Regions from separate parts of the Homo sapiens genome. Here region 2 is linked to region 1. Evidence: fine-mapped expression QTL. Tissue or cell type: whole blood. Region 1 holds a variant in brackets; the other region holds the start of a gene. All regions are shown on one strand. Distances are between the middles of the regions.

Region 1 (8,000 bases):
ATGGAGTCATCAGATGTGGGACCTGCATTGGCCTGGCCAGGAGGTGTCTGTGCTGGTGCCTGGCTTCTCCAGGTGACTTTGGTTCAGTGCCTCCTGGGAGCAGGCCTGGCCAGCATCTGCAGGCAGATTGTCCCTTCCTGTGCCACTGTGACTTCCCCTGGACAGCTCGTCTGCTTCTTGCTTCTATATTCATTATGCAGCTGCTTCCCCCCAAGCAGCTGTGGGGGTCAGCAGGACACTGTTGGCTTGTAGAAGAGGAGGGGGATGTGCCTCACCCAGACTGGTCATTTCCAGCCCCTCACAGGCCCTCAGACATGCTGAGGAATGGCAGTGACAAAACTGCATGCCTCAAAGGTGCTTGGCCCTCCCTCTGTGGAAAAATCTAGAGCAGAGATGGAAGGTGTCCACCTCTAGGACTGGCTGAGCCCCAGGGAAACCCGCAAGCCTATCCTTCAAGGGGAGGGGTGTTGACGGCTGAGTAATATTTAGCAAAGCCTGTCATGAGCCATAAAAATATTCAGCCTTTGACCTACTAATCTGGCTTCTGGGAATCCCGTCGAAGGAAACTGTTGCCAACCTGAAAAAAACTGCACACAGTAATGTCTGTTTATGCTACAGAGAAACTGGCAGCAGTTTGGGGGTGGGATATTACTCAACTGTTAAAAATGCTCCCCATGGGCCGGGCGCGGTGGCTCACGCCTGTAATCCCAGCACTTTGGGAGGCCGAGGCAAGTGGATTACGAGGTCAGGAGATCGAGACCATCCTGGCTAACATGGTGAAACCCCATCTCTACTAAAAATACACACACAAAAAAATTAGCCGGGCGTGGTGGCGGGTGCCTGTAGTCCCAGCTACTCCAGAGGCTGAGGCTGGAGAATGGCGTGAACCCGGGAGGCGGAGCTTGCAGTGAGCCAAGATAGCGCCATTGCACTCTAGCCTGGGCAACTGAGCGAGACTCCATCTCAAAAAAAAAAAAAAAATGCTCCCCATGGGATACGCTGTGACGCAGAGCCATGTCAGATGCAGCAGAAAACAGTGACTGCTATGCCTGCAGCAAGATGGAGACCAGAGTGCCCTGTAGGCCAGCACGCAGCACCCACTCAGGGCAGTGACCTGGAGCTTCCTCAGATCCCTCTAAGGCAGACGTTCTGAATCCATCTTTGTTAGCAGTCTGGGAGACGAACTTAGCTTTGGTCAACCGGCAACAGCAAGGCAGGCTGGTTGTAGGGAAGGTGGGCTCAGACGTGGCCCCAGAGGTACCCCTCACCCAGCATCCCCAGCCGTGGCTGACTCTTCCCTGGGAGTTGTGATCAGAAATGGGGTGGAGCCCAGCGCGGTGGCTCACGCCTGTTTCCAGCACTTTGGGAGGCTGAGGTGGGAGGATCCTTGAGGCCAGGAGCTCGAGACCAGCCTATGCAAAATACTGAGATCCTATCTATACAAAAAATTAGCTGGGTATGATAGTGCATGCTTATAGCCCACCTACTTGGGAGACTGAGGCAAGAGGATCGCTTGAGCCCAGGAGTTTGCAGCTACAGTGAACCTTGATCACACCACTGCACTCCAGCCTGGAAGAAATAGGAGCCAGGTGTGGTGGCTGGAATCCCAGCACATTGGGAGGCTGAGATCAGAGGATCGCTTGAGCCCAGGGGTTCAAGACAAGCCTGGACAACATAGCGAGATCCCATCTCTTAAAAAAAATTAGCTGGAGTATAGTGGTGCACACCTGTGGCCCCACCTACCTGGGAGGCTGACGTGGGAGGGTCGCTTGAGCACAGGAGGTCTAGGCTATAGTGAGCTAAGATCTTGTATCAAAAAAGGAAAAAAAGCAGGCTAGAGGGGCCAGGGGGCAGGTGATGGGGTCTCAGTACTGCAGGTGGTAGCCCTCCCCTTTTTGGAGCCAGCCTGGCCCCAGCACCTCTAAGACAGTTGAGTCTGGACCTGCCTTCATGACCCTCATTATCCCTTCTGCACCCTGAGGATTGTGTGCGGGGGAACTGGGGGTGGGAGACATCACGGATCGGTAGTGGGCCATCCTCTTTCCTCTCCTCTGTCTCTGTCTGTCTCCCACTGTCTCTGCACACCCTCCCAAACCCACTATCAGATCTTTTTTCTCTAGTCCCCCGTCTCTCTCAGGATTCCCACAAAGTGATGGCTGGCTCTGTCTTGCAGGTGGCCAACATGAGTGCTAAGGACGGCACGTGTACACTGCAGGACTGCATGTACAAGGATGTGCAGAAGGACTGGCCTGGCTACTCGGAGGGGGACCAGCAGCTGCTGAAGCGGGTGCTCGTCCGGTAATGCCGCCTCCCATCCCCCAGCATGTCCCCACCCGCATGAAGGCAGCCAGAGCTTACCCAGAGGATGCTGGGGTGGTCTTGTGTGGTCCTGAAGGCCACAGGGCTTGGGAGCAGGATGGAAGGGTCCAAGTAGGCCTCTCTGGCCATCCTCCCTACTGCCCACGTGGTGCCCCAGGGTGTCCCGTGGTGGGGGAAGGCCACGCTCACAGAGTGGGACGGAGGTGTGAGTCACTGGCCCCGACCTTGGAATCTTCAGACAAAAGGCCTCAGTCTGCTGAGACCCTCCTCAGCTGTCCCCAACTTCCCTTCATGCTTCCCTCCACAACCTGGGCATCCCCACAGGGCCTGGGAAGTTCACTGACTTTTTGAAAAGAGCCTCTCAAGAACCTGAAGTAGAGAGAAATAAGGCCAAACGACACTCCCGGCAGGGCAGGCGTCATTAAGCAGCGTTAATTAAATGCATCCCCTCAGGCTAATTGGGACCCAGGGTCAGAAGTGGCAGCAGCTCAGGGGAGCAGTGGTTAAGGAGGCAGGCGGCTAATGACTTCCTTCTCCACTGCTGCCAGCTAGGGGAGCTCGGGCTGTGAAGCAGGTCAATCTGCTAATTAGTCCGTAAGTGATTTCTCAGGGACTCGGAGGTATTTATGAGTTTGTAGTTGTTTTTTGGAAGTTCAGCTGTTTAAAGCAGTAATTGCCTCTGGAAAGCAGAATGAAGTTGGGGGTCCACTCTGCTCCCCTGAGAGGGTAGTGCCTGCCTGTCCACCCTGGGTGTGCAGGTCAGGGGCCTGCGGGGCACTGCCCTGGCTTGGCGGCAGGCTGGCGGAGGGCACAGTCTTGGCAGAAGACCCGCCCCCATCCTCATACCCTGTGTCCTCTCCCTTGGCCCCCTGGGTTCCTCAGACCCTTAGGGCACTGGAAGGAGAACTGCCCAGAGCTAGTGGAGTGAGGTGGAGAAGGCTGGGCTGCACCTCTGGGGCGTCGGGGAGCTTCCCCGGGATGCAGGCTCCAGAGCCGCCTCCAGCTCCCCTGATTCAAGGCTCATGTTCCGTCTGCTGAGTGAGCTTGCTGGGCTCATGCCAGCCCCTTGGCACTCTGCTTTCACTCTGGGCCGGCATGGGGATCAGCACTGCCTTCACAAGCTTCCACTAGCGTGCAGGGGGCAGGGTTGATGTCCCTGGGCCATAACCACATAGAAGGTGACCTGCGGTGCCCCTCTGCATAGCTGTTTTTTTTTTTTTTTCCTATTTAGCACCCCATCCCTAAGAAAGCCCCATTTATAGCAGTTTTTGACACCATGGCTTCGTGTATATCAAAGCAGGGCCTTGGAGTATTTGTTACCAGCTGGGCTAGCCCAGTGCAGGCCGTTAGCCTAGTGCAGGCCGTGAGACAGATGGGATGTGGGGGCCCAAGTCACTGCAGGAGCCTCCCCAGCTGAGCTGGCACCACATGTGGCTTTGGGGGGTGGTTTCTCCACTCATGTTCTCTTTGTTCATGATGTCCAAACCCGATCTGTCCCTGGTATCCAAATCTCCTCTCATCACTGTCCATGGGTCAGGGGTCCTGCAGGTCCCCCCAAGAGTTCCTGATTCCTCTGCCCAAGCCACACACTGCCTGGTGCCCTTACCTCCAACCTGAGCCACTCCCCTCTCCTGTGAGCCCCATGCCAGAGTCTATATACTCCTCCTTCCTGCTCCTCCCTGGTGCCAAGGGAGCACAGCTCCTGGAGCACCTCTCTGAGGACAGGGCTCCAGGAGGACTGCTGGCCACATCTTCATGCCCAGACGATGGTCCTGCTGAGCCGGCGGTTGATCACATCTAGACTTGTAGAGTCCAAGATGCTTTCCCTCCACGTTGAAGGTCAGAGGCTTCCCACCCCAACCCTGTGCTGGTCCACAGAGCCAGGGGCTGGCCAGGTACCTACTCTGGGATGGTGGGCACCACGGCCCCCGCAGGCTGAAAACTTGCCTTATCC[G/A]TCTATCCGTCCTTCTGTCCTGTGTGTGGTAGTGGAAAGGCCTATCCTACTGCACACCACCTCAAACTGCTCTTGGCAGGCTGCTAGAGTCTGTCCTCCTCTTCCTGGTTTTCATCTCTTTTTTTTTTTTTTGTGATGGAGTTTTGCTCTTGTTGCCCAGGCTGGAGTGCAATGGCGCGATCTCGGCTCACAGCAACGTCCGTCTCCTGGGTTCAAGCCATTCTCCTGCCTCAGCATCCAGAGTAGCTGGGATTACAGGCATGCGCACCATGCCCGGCTAATTTTGTATTTTTAGTAGAGATGGGGTTTCTCCATGTTGGTCAGGCTGGTCTCAAACTCCGGATCTCAGGTGATCCGCCCACCTCAGCCTCCCAAAGTGCTGGGATTACAGGCGTGAGCCACCGCGCCCAGCTGGTTTTCATCTCTTGCTCTTTTTTATTCTCCTTTTAGGAGACTTCTTTGACATTTCTCATCCTGTCTCTTAATTTACTATTATTTGTAGTTTCTTTTTTTTTCTTGAGACAGAGTGTTGCTCTGTTGCCTAGGCAAAGAGATGGGGTTTCACCATGTTCTCCAGACTGGTCTTGAACTCCTGACCTCAAGTGATCTGCCTGCCTCAGCCACCCAAAGCACTGGGATTACACATGTGAGCCACCATGCAAGGCCTATTATTTCTAGTTTCTAAGAGTCTTCCCCATTGCGTTTTCGTAGGAGCATGTTCTTTTTTTTTTTTTTTTCCTGAGACAGAGTCTTGCTCTGTCACGCAGGCTGGAGTGCAGTGGCATGATCTCGGCTCACTGCAACCTCCGCCTCCTGGGTTCAAGCAATTCTGTGCCTCAGCTTCCCGAGTAGCTGGGATTACAGGTGCCCGCCACCACGCCTGGCTAATTTTTGTATTTTTAGTAGAGATGGGGTTTCACCATCTTGGCCAGGCTGGTCTGGAACTCCTGACCTCATGATCCACCCGCCTCGGCCTCCCAAAGTGCTGGGATTACAGGCGTGATCCACTGTGCCTGGCCTAACTCATCATGTTCTTATTTAATGGAAAGGATGTCTTTTTCTTTCTTTCTTTCTTTTTTTTTTTTTTTGGAGAGGGACTCTCACCCTATCGCCCAACCTGGAGTGCAGTGGCGCAATCTTGGCTCACTGCAACCTCTGCCTCCCCGGTTCAAGCAATTCTCCTGCCTCAGCCTCCTGAGTAGCTGGGATTACAGGCATGCACCACCATGCCCGGCTAATTTTTTGTATTTTTAGTAGATCTGGGGTTTCACCATGTTGGCCAGGCTTGTCTCAAACTCCTGACCTCAAGGGCCTCAGCCTTCCAAAGTGCTGGGTTTACAGGTGTGAGCCACCGTGCCCAGCCAGGATGCCTTTTTTTTTTTTTTTTTTGAGACTGAGTCTCACTCTGTTGCCCAGGCTGGAGTGCAGTGGCGCAATCTCTGCTCACTGCAACATCTGCCTCCCAGGTTCAAGTGATTCGCCTACCTCAGCTTCCCGAGTAGCTGGGATTACAGGCGCCTGCCACCACGACCGGCTAATTTTGTATTTTTAAGTAGAGACAGGGTTTCACCATGCAGGCCAGGCTGGTCGGGAACTCCCAACCTCAGGTAATCTGCCCATCTCAGCCTCCCAAAGTACTGGGATTACAGGCATGAGCCATTATGCCCAGCCCAGGATGTCATTTTTAACCTACTCTAAGGATGTTTATTTTATTTATTTCTTTATTTATTTTGAGACGGAGTCTTGCTCGTCACCCAGGCTGGAGTGCAGTGGCGCGATCTCGGCTCACTGCTAGCTCCGCCTCCTGGGTTGACACCATTCTCCTGCCTCAGCCTCGCGAGTAGCTGGGACTACAGGCGCCCGCCACCATGCCCGGCTAATTTTTTGTATTTTTAGTAGAGATGAGGTTTCACCGTGTTAGCCAGGATGGTCTCGATCTCCTGACCTCGTGATCCACCTGCCTCGGCCTCCCAAAGTGCTGGGATTACAGGCGTGAGCCATCGGGCCCGGCCTCTAAGGATGTTTTTTAAAGAATAACAGCTTTATTCAGATACAGTTCATGTAACACAAGTCATCCATTTAAAGTGAGCAGCTCAGTAACATTTTGTACGTTCATAATATTGTGCAGCCACCACCTCTGTCTAGTTCCAGAAAATTTTCATTTCCCCAAAAGGAAACCCTATCCCCATCAGGAGTCATTCTCCCCATTCCCTCCCATGCTCCCAGCCCCTGGTAACTACTAATCTGCTTTCTGTCTCTATTGATTTGCCTGTTGTGGACATTTCAGATCAATGGAATTATACGCTGTGTGGCTGACATGTAATCTGTGGAAACTTGTAGCTGTGAGGAATGTTGAATCAGGACCGGGCGTGGTGGCTCATGCCTATAATGTCAGCACTTTGGGAGGCTTAGGTGGGAGGATTGCTTGAGCCCAAGCCTGGGCTCAAGTTCTAGACAAGCCTGGGCAACATAGTGAGACCCTCATCTCTACAAAAAATGAAAAAATTAGCCAGGCATGGTGTTGTGCTCTTGTGATCCCAGCTACCCTAGAGGCTGAGGTGGGAGGATCACTTGAGCACAGGAGATCCAGGCTGCAGTGAGCTGTGACTGGGATTAGAGGCGTGAGCCACTGCGCCCAACCTATTTTCTGTTTTTTTTATTCCAGTCATCCCTGGGTGTGTGTGAAGTGGTATCTCGTTGTTTGTTTTTTGTTTGGTGGGTTTGTTTGTTCATTATTGCTCCTTGCAGGGCAGGGCTAACCCATAGGCAGTGTGCCCAGAGTAGCCAGTGTCTCGTTGTTTTGATTTGCATTTCCCTGATGACACATGGCATTGAGCATCTTGTTATGTGCTTTTAGCCATTTGTATAGCTTCTTTGAAGAAACGTCTATTCAGAGCTTTTGTTTTTCCAAGGACACGAAAACTGGCATTTTTTATTTATTTATTTTATGTTTTTGAGACGGAGTCTCGGTCTTGTTGCCCAGACTGGAGTGCAATGGCATGATCTCTGCTCACTGCAACCTCCGCCTCCCGGGTTCAAGTGATTCTCCTGCTTCAGCCTCCCAAGTAATTGAGGTTACAGGTGCCCACCACCATGCCCGGCTAATTTTTTTGTACGTTTAGGAGAGACGGGGTTTCACCATGTTGGCCAGACTGGTCCCGAACTCCTGACCTTAGGTGATCCGCCTGCCTTGGCCTCCCAAAGTGCTGGGATTACAGGCGTGAGCCATGGGCGCCCGGCCTGTTGATTTATTTTTTAACGTTTTCATCTCCCTGTGGAGTCTCTTTTCAAATGTATTTTCGTGTTCCTCTGTTTTGAGGTCTGACGTTTGTTGCCTGGAAGCTGCAGTGCAGCCGTTGGGGACACTGCACAGCTTGGGGCCTCTGAATCCCGATGTGCCCTAGTCCTGGGCCCTGTTTCTTCTTCTCCTGAGGCCACACATCTGGCCATCCTGTTGTCCAGCTGTGGCCCAGGTAACTTCCCAACTGCCTGGAGGAGTGGCCCGAGCCTCTTTGCTGCCTGACAGCCCTGGGCTCACTGTCCTGCAGCCCCACCAGCAGTGATGAGGATCTGGAGTAGAGCTGTGGGGGATGGCCCTGCAGCAGTCTGTTGTCCCCTGAGGTCGTGGTGCCTCTTGCTCTGGGCCCTGGATTCTCTGGATCCTGCAGCAGTCACCACTCATGCTTCTGCTATGCTTTCCGGTGTCTTCACTCCTCCTTTTGTCTCT
Region 2 (8,113 bases), 65 kb before region 1:
GTTCTTAAAAATTTCTGCAGACAAAGCCGGACACGGTGGCTCACGCCTGTAATCCCACCACTTTGGGAGGCCGAGGCGGGTGGATCACTTGAGGTCAGGAGTTCGAGACCTACATGGTGAAATCCCGTCTCTACTAAAAATACAAAATTAGCTGGGTGTGGTGGCGTGTGCCTGTAATCCCAGCTACTCAGGAGGCTGAGGCAGGAGAATCACTTGAACCAGGAGGCAGAGGTTGCAGTGAGCCGAGATCGTGCCACTGCACTCCAGCCTGGGCAACAAGAGCAAAACTCCGTCTCAAAACAAAGAAACAAAAATGTCTGCAGACGGCCAGGTGCAGTGGCTTATGGCCTATAATCCTAGCACTTCCTAGCACTTTGGGAGGCTAGGCGACAGGATCTTTTGAACCCAGGAGTTAGAGACCAGCCTGGGCAACATGGAAAAATCTCATCTCTTCAAAAAATACAAAAGATTGGCCCAGTATGGTGGAGCATGCCTGTAATTTCAGCTACTTGGGAGGCTGAGGTGGGAGGATGGGTTGAGCCCAGGAGTTGGAGGCTGCAGTGAGCCGAGATCATGCCACTGCACTCCAGCCTGGGTGACAGAGTGAGAACTTGTCTCCAAAAAAAAAAAAAAAAAAAAAGGCCAGGCATGGTGGCTCACGCCTGTAATCCCAGCACTTTGGGAGGCTGAGGCAGGCGGATCATCGGATCATGAGGTCAGGAGATCGAGACCATCCTGGCTAACACGGTGAAACCCCGTCTACTAAATATACAAAAAATTAGCCAGGCGTGGTGGCACGTGCCTGTAACCCGAGCTACTCGGGCGGCTGAGGCAGGAGAATCGCTTGGACCCAGGAGGCGGAGGCTGCAGTGAACCCGAGATTGTGCCACTGCACTCCAGCCTGGGCGACAGAGTGAGACTCCGTCTCAAAAAAAAAAAAAAAAAAGAAACTTCTGCAGAGCATGCCAACGTCTGATAAGTTCTGCCTTATTTTTCCTGGGGTCTCATTGAGATCCACTGGGGAATCAAATGTAAAGTAGACGTGGAGAAATACTTTTTTTTTTTGGGACCGAGTCTTGCTCTGTCACCCAGGCTGGAGTGCAGTGGCACGATCTCGGCTCACTGCAAGCTCTGCTTCCTGGGTCCAAGCTATTCTCCTGCCTCAGCCTTCTGAGTAGCTGGGATTACAGGCGTGTGCCACCATGCCTGGCTAATTTTAGTGTTTTTAGCAGAGACGGGGTTTCACCATGTTGGTCGTGGTGGTCTCGAACTCCTGACCTCATGATCCAGCCCCCTCGGCCTTCAAAAGTGCTGGGATTACAGGCGTGAGCCACTGGGGGCCTGGCTTTTTTTTTTTTTTTTTTTTTTTTTTTTTGGAGACAGGGTCTTACTCTGTCACTCAGGCTGGAGTGCTGGAATATAGTGGTGCGAACATAGTTCACTACAGCCTCAACCTCCCATGGGCTTGAGAGAGCCTCCCATGTCAGCCTCCGGAGTAGCTGGGACCACAGGGGTGCTCCACCATGCCCGGCTAATTTTTTTAATTTTTTAAATTTTTTTGTAGAGAGGGGGCTTAGCCCTGTTACCCAGGCTGGTCTCAAGCCCTTGGGTGCAAGCGATCCTCCCGTCATGGCATCCCAAAATGCTGGGATTTCAGGTGTGAGACACCTTGCTAGGTCCTGAGTACTGCTCTTATTGCTGTTTCCTGTTTCCGAAGTGAATCCACAGAGGCTCAGAAGCAGGAGGTGCCTTTCACAAGATCACAGAGCGAGCTGGTTGGCCCTCCAAGCCAGCTCCTCCCTTGGCCAGGCGCAGTGGCTCACGCCTGTAGTCCCAGCACTTTGGTAGCCCTAGGCAGGCGGATCACCTGAGGTTGGGAGTTAGAGACCTGATCAATATGGTGAAACCCCGTCTCTACTGAAAATACAAAAATTAGCTGGGCGTGGTGGTGGGCATCTGTAATCCCAGCTACTCGGGAGGCTGAGGCAGGAGAATCGCTTGAACCTGGGAGGCGGAGGTTGCAACGAGCTGAGATGGCACCGTTGCACTCCAGGTTGGGCAACAAGAGTGAAACTCTGTCTCAAAGAAAAAGAAAAAAAAATCTCGGAAATTAGATAGTGGTGACAGCTACACAGCATTGGGAATATATTTTATATGTAAAATGTGACTCAATGAAGTTGCTTTTTAGAAAATGGAAGGCTGGCCGGGCACAGTGGCTCATGCTTGTAATCCCAGCACTTTGGGAGGCCGAGGTGGGTGCATCACTTGAGGTCAGGAGTTCCAGACCAGCCTGACTAACATGGTGAAATCCCGTCTCTACTAAAAATACAAAAAATTAGCTGGGCGTTGTGATGGGCGCCTGCAGTCCCAGCTACTACTCGGGAGGCTGAGGCAGGAGAATTGCTTGAATCCAGGAGGCGGTGGTTGCAGTGAGCCGAGATCACACCACTGCACTCCAGCCTGGGCAAGGAAATCGAAACTCTGTCTAAAAACAAACAAACAAACAAAAACTGGGGGAGGTGGCTCACGCCTGTAATCCTAGCACTTTGGGAGGGCGAGGCGCGCGGATCACCTGAGGTCAGGAGTTCAAGACCAGCCTGGTCAACATGGTGAAACCCCATCTCTACTAAAATACAAAAATTAGCTGGGCATGATGGCGGGCGCCTGTAATCCCAGCTACTCGAGAGGCTGAGACAGGAGAATCGCTTGAATTCAGGAGACGATGGTTGCATTGAGCCGAGATAGCGCCACTGTTCTCCAGTCTGGGCTGATGAGCAAGACTCCGTCTCAAAAAAAAAAAAAAAGAAAAGAAAAGAAAATGGAAGTCTGGGCTTGGTGGCTCACTCCTGTAATCCTAGCATTTCAGCAGACCCAGACAAGGAGGATCAGTTTGAGTTCAGGAGGTCGAGGGTGCAGTGAGCCATGATGGCGCCATTGCACTCCAGCCTGGGCAACACAGCAAGACCCCTCAAAAAAAAATTAAAATAGGAAAATGAAGCTGGACTGCACCATCGCTCAGGGACTGTGGGGATGTAGGATTTTATCCTATTAAAAGTACTCATCTCATAAGAAAAAGTTTACCAGCTCCTCTTCCACCTACCGGTCCAGCACCTTCCCTGGGTGGAAGTCCCATCCACCCCGCCTAAGGGATGCCTTATGTGTCCAACCCAGCGTCCAACGCGCGCGCTCCGTTTACATAGCCACGCCCACCCTCCCGGCCCGCGGCGGGGCCTACCCACCCACGTGTTTCGAGCCGGCTCCGCCCCTCCACGCCCTCTCTGCGGCTTTCCACAGAAGCCAAAGACGGAAGACTGTAGAGATCTCATAAATAATGCATCACGTCAGCGGCTGTAGGGGCGGGGCTTTGACGCGCCTGGCTGGCTGAGTCAGGGTTATGTATAATACTATGGAGGCGGGGCCTGGAGGGGTGCGCGTGTTGAGGCGGAGTTCGTTCACGGAAGTGGCCACCCCTAGGGCCTGAAGAGGCGGGGCCATAAGTGCCTTATGAATATGCAACAACTTGGGGCGTTGACTGTGGGCCTTGTGGGGCCCTCATGGGGCGTGGCCAGGCGCGTCTCCTGAATAATGTAGTGCGCTGCCTGCCGGTGTGGCGGCGACTGTTGGTTTGGTCGGACTCGGGGGGCGTGGCCAGCCGCGTCTCATGAATAATGCAGCGCGTCAGCGGGCGGCGGGGCGGGGCGTGGCCGGCGTGGCGGCGCTGGAGCCGGGAAGGGGGCGCGGGGGAGAGATGGTCGCAAGATGGCGGCGCTGAAGGAGGATAGGAGCTACGGGCTGTCGTGCGGGCGGGTTAGCGACGGCAGCAAGGTGTCGGTGTTCCACGTGAAGCTCACCGACAGTGCCCTGAGGGCCTTCGAGAGCTACCGCGCCAGACAGGTGAGTGGCATGGCGCCCGGCGCGCCAGTGGGGAACGTCCGGACGCGGGCCGGCCTCGCGCTCCCCTCACTGAGGCGTCCGGGCTCGGAGACGCTAGGTCTGTGGTGCTGCTCGCGGGTCCCTGGGCCGGCGGGGCGCGGAGTGGGCGCCAGTCCGGCCTGGAGCGCTGAGAACCGCGTTCCTTCTCAGCACTAGGAGGCAATACAGGCGGGTGGCCCGGGGCTGCTGAGGGGCCCAGACTCGCGCGCCGGGCCCGGGGGGCGTCGGTGTCGGCACCTGGCGGCGTCCGGGGCCTTTCTGGCCTGCTGGGCACCTGGGCAGGGTCCAGTTTGCGCACCTGGCGGCGGGGCGAGGAGGCGGTGGGCCGCACGGTCCCGGCACCGTGATAGGGGGAAGCTGGGGGCTTTTCCATCTGGGGCCGGGGCAGCGCCGTTGGTGGGGGTGACTGTGTCTGTCCTCCTGGGAAGCAGCGATCGTCTGGGTGCCCGGCAGGGGGTGGTCAGCGAGGCACTTGTGGGGGTCTGTTCTGTCTGGGTGGAAGGCTTTGCAGCTGGGGGCTGGCTTTGACGCGTTCCGATGAAGCCACTCAGGTTGGGCCACTTTGGTTCTTGGGACGGGGAGTTTGGGCAGAAACTGACAGCTTGTCCCAGCTTTCTGCTCCCCTTACCCCCAGGTGACCCTCTCTCTCCGGAGAGAGGTTCCTTGGAGAGTGGAAGTGTTGGGGGCGGCTGTGATGTTATCCTCAGGGCACATGTAGGGGATCCCTGCCACCCAGGAGGAAGCTCTGGCTACCACATCTGGCCGCTGACTCTGGAACTTCTCAGAGGCCGATTTGGGCCCATCTGGGGGAAGTTTGAGGCGTTTCGGTTCTGCCACCTGGCTGGTGGTGGGGAGGGGAGGCTGCTGTGTATGTTCTCTTGGGCCTGACTTTGGGGCGCATCTGGGGCCGTGGTCAGAAACCTGCCTTTTTCATTTCTGTTTGTGTCATGGCCCCCCCTCCCCCCGTCTGTGCTGGGTCAGAAGTTGCAGATGACCAGTGGTCAGGTCCCGAGGGGAAGTGGTTTAGGAACCTTGTAACTCCTTTTCTGGAAATTGGGGGCTTCATTGCCCTAAAGGGAGTGGGGGTGGGTCTAGTCTCGGGCTCAGAGAGCCCTGCTCCCTGCGTGTGTGTGTGTTTGTGTATACTGTTGATGGTGGGGGTGGGGGGGTGCCGCGGGCGGGGGAGGAGGGAGACTAACTAGGAAGGAATGTGGCTTTCTTCCTGCCCCGAACTTGTTCAGCTCCATTAGCTAAGCCGAGAATTTCTTCCCCCTGTTTCGTTTCCACCACTCTCCCGGTGCCCACCCCTTCCGTGCTTCTTCCCATGTCTTTGGGCAATTTCCTCCCTGTCCCGGTGTCGCAGTTTTCCCCTTCATGGAATGAGGATTTCATTTTTTTTTGAAAGAGCAAGTTCGCACCTTGTCAAAAAGACTCCCCAAGATGAGGCTAAGGCGCCCCTGCAGGTGAGGAGGAGACAGTGGCAGCGACAGCAGCTGCTGGCCCATGACCAGCCAGAGCCTCTCTTCCTGGTAGAATTCTGGCCCTGGGTCTTTTTCCCTGAGCGATTCTGACTTGTCCTGCAGGAAGGCAGGCTTTCCTAGAAACAGCTGGGGGAGAGCTCGTGAGTCATATAACTACGATGGACTTGGTACCTGGTCACCACTGTCTTCTGTGCTTTAGGAACCAGGAGCTCCGCCTTCTCTCTGATGCTGCCCTCGCTTGCTTTTCAGTCCAGAAGGTCCGCCTGTGTGTCCACCTCATGCTGTCACACTGCTATTTTTACTTTAGGGTATTGGTTACATCCCCTCTCTAAGCTGGATCTTCCTCATGTTAGGGTGAAGGTAACTGTGGACTGTTAAACTCCTCTGGCTCGGAGCCCAGCTGTGTAGGGCAGTGTGTTGACCAGCCAGGAGGGGCTTCCTAGAAGAACTTTTCCAAGCCATCCAGAGCAACTTGGCTGGCTGGATTATATTTTGGGGTGATTCAAACTTGGATTTTTCTCAAAAAGCTGTCTGGTAATTTAAGTGGCTTGGCCACTTTCTTTCTTTCTTTCTTTCTTTTTTTTTTTTTTTTTTGAGATGGAGTTTCACTCTGCTGCCCAGGCTTCATTGAGGTGGCGCGATCCCGGCTCACTGCAGCTTCTGCCTCCCGGGTTCAAGCGATTCTCCTGCCTCAGCCTCCCGAGTAGCTGGGACTACAGGCACGTGCCACCACACCCGGCTAATTTTTGTATTTTTAGTAGAGACAGGGTTTTGCCATGTTGGCCAGGCTGGTCTTGAACTCCTGACCTCCAGTGATCCGTCCTTCTCAGCCTCTAAAAGTGCTGGGACTACAGGCATGAGCCACTGCTCCCAGCCAGCTTGGCTACTTTCGAATTTAATCTTGCCCATGGGGCAGTATAGTGGATGGACTTTTCTAAGGCACGGCAGCTCCGTGCTCTCTGTGGTTTTGGGTAGTGAGCTTGAGGAAGGTGGCTTGAAGAACTTGATTGTGTAACCAGAGAAATATACTGGTTATGGACAAACTCTCATGTGGACAACTCTATCACCCAGAAGCCAGAGTTTTGTATTCCTCGATGCTGTGGTTATATAGTTTGCCAATTGCAACTTGTGGAGAGGGCTTTTATTTTTAATTTCTTTTTTTTTTTTTTGAGACGGAGTCTTGCTCTGTTGTCCAGGCTGGAGTGCAGTGGTGCGATTTTTCGTGTTAGCCAGGATGGTTTCGATCTCCTGACTTTGTGATCTGCCCACCTCGGCCTCCCAAAGTGCTGGGATTACAGGCGTGACCAACCGTGCCCGGCCTATTTTTAGTTTTTAATTGTGAAGAGGCTTTTACAAATTCAGGTGTGGCAGGGGCTAGAAAGGAACTTGCTGTGGAACTTTCTCTGTGGCTCCCAGGAGCAGGTAATCCTAGCTCTGGGAACAGCCCAGGTAGAAGCCCTCCTGTTTTCTCTCCCCAGAGGGCTCTGGTGTTGACCTGGTAGCCAGCTGGAGCAGCGTGGTGGAAGGTAAAGGCGCAGCAGTACACATAGCTGCTGGCCTTCTCACTCTACCTTGGACTTTGTGCAGTTTTTCTTTCCTTTTTTTTTTTTGAGACAGGGTCTTGCCCTGTCGCCCAAGCTGGATTGCGCTGGCGTGATCTCAGCTCACTGCAACCTCCGCCTCCCGGGTTCAAGTGATTCTCCTGCCTCAGCCTACCAAGTAGCTGGGATTACAGGCACGCATCACCGTGCCTGGCTAATTTTTGTATTTTTGGTAGAGATGGGGTTTTACCATGTGGTCAGGATGGTCTCAAACTCCTGACCCCTCAAGTGATCCATCTGCCTCAGCCTCCCAAAGTGCTGGGATTATAAGCTTGAGTCGCCACGCTGGGCCCCCTTTTTTTTTTTTTTTGAGACAGGGTTTTGCTCCATTGTCCAGGCTGGAGTGCAATGGCATGATCATAGCTCACTGCAGCCTCGAACTACCACCCTCCTGCTTCAGTCTCCTGAGTAGCTGGGGCCACAGGTGTGCACCACTGCACCTGGCTAAGTTTTAAATTTTTTTGTAGAGACGGGGTCTCACTATGTTGCCAAGGCTGATTTCAAACGCCGGGGCTCAAGTGATTTCCCTGCCTCAGCCTCCCAAAGTGCTGTAATTACAAGAGTGAGCCATCGTGCCTGGCCTAGTTTTTGTTGTTGTTGTTGTTGTTTTTTGAGACAGAGTTTCACTCTTGTTGCTAGGCTGGAGTGTAATGGTGTTATCTTGGCTCACTGCAACCTCAGCCTCCCAAATAGCTGGGATTACAGGCATGCACCACCATGCCCTACAAATTTTGTACTTTTAGTGGAGACGGGGTTTTACCATGTTGGTCAGGCTGGTCTCGAACTCCTGACCTCAGGTGATCCTCCTCCCTTGGCCTCCCAAAGTGCTGGGATTATAGGAGTGAGCCTTCGTGCCTGGCCTAGTTTTTCTCTTTTCTTTTCTTCTTCTTCTCCTTCTTTTTTTTTTTTTTTTGAGACAAGGTCTTACTCTGTCACCCAGGCTGGAGTACAGTGGTGTGATCATAGCTCACTGCGGCCTTGAACTCCTGGGCTTAAGTGATCTTCCCACCTCAGCTGCCCAGAGTGCCGGGACTACAGGCATGAGCCATTGTGCCTGGCCCAGTTTTTTTCTTTTTCTTTTAATTAAAAAAAATTTTT

What was found. PIP is the estimated chance that this variant, and not a neighbour inherited with it, causes the effect.
Region 2: ELL starts here. The variant in region 1 is fine-mapped to the expression of ELL in whole blood (TOPMed, PIP above 0.99).

What each region holds. Positions count from the first base shown.
Region 1 is chr19:18,452,503-18,460,502 of GRCh38, reverse strand. It overlaps ELL (elongation factor for RNA polymerase II), which reads left to right. Exons shown (of 12, transcript NM_006532.4): 6 at 2,174-2,298. Among named protein-coding and RNA genes, the nearest start is that of ISYNA1, 18 kb to the right of the region's middle. RefSeq lists a silencer at 4,738-4,954. The variant G/A (reference allele first, on the strand shown) is at 4,274.
Region 2 is chr19:18,517,702-18,525,814 of GRCh38, reverse strand. It overlaps ELL (elongation factor for RNA polymerase II), which reads left to right and starts at 3,745. Exons shown (of 12, transcript NM_006532.4): 1 at 3,745-3,894. The coding sequence starts at 3,760. RefSeq lists enhancers at 3,252-3,581, 3,725-4,240, 4,241-4,756 and silencers at 3,972-4,281, 5,012-5,061.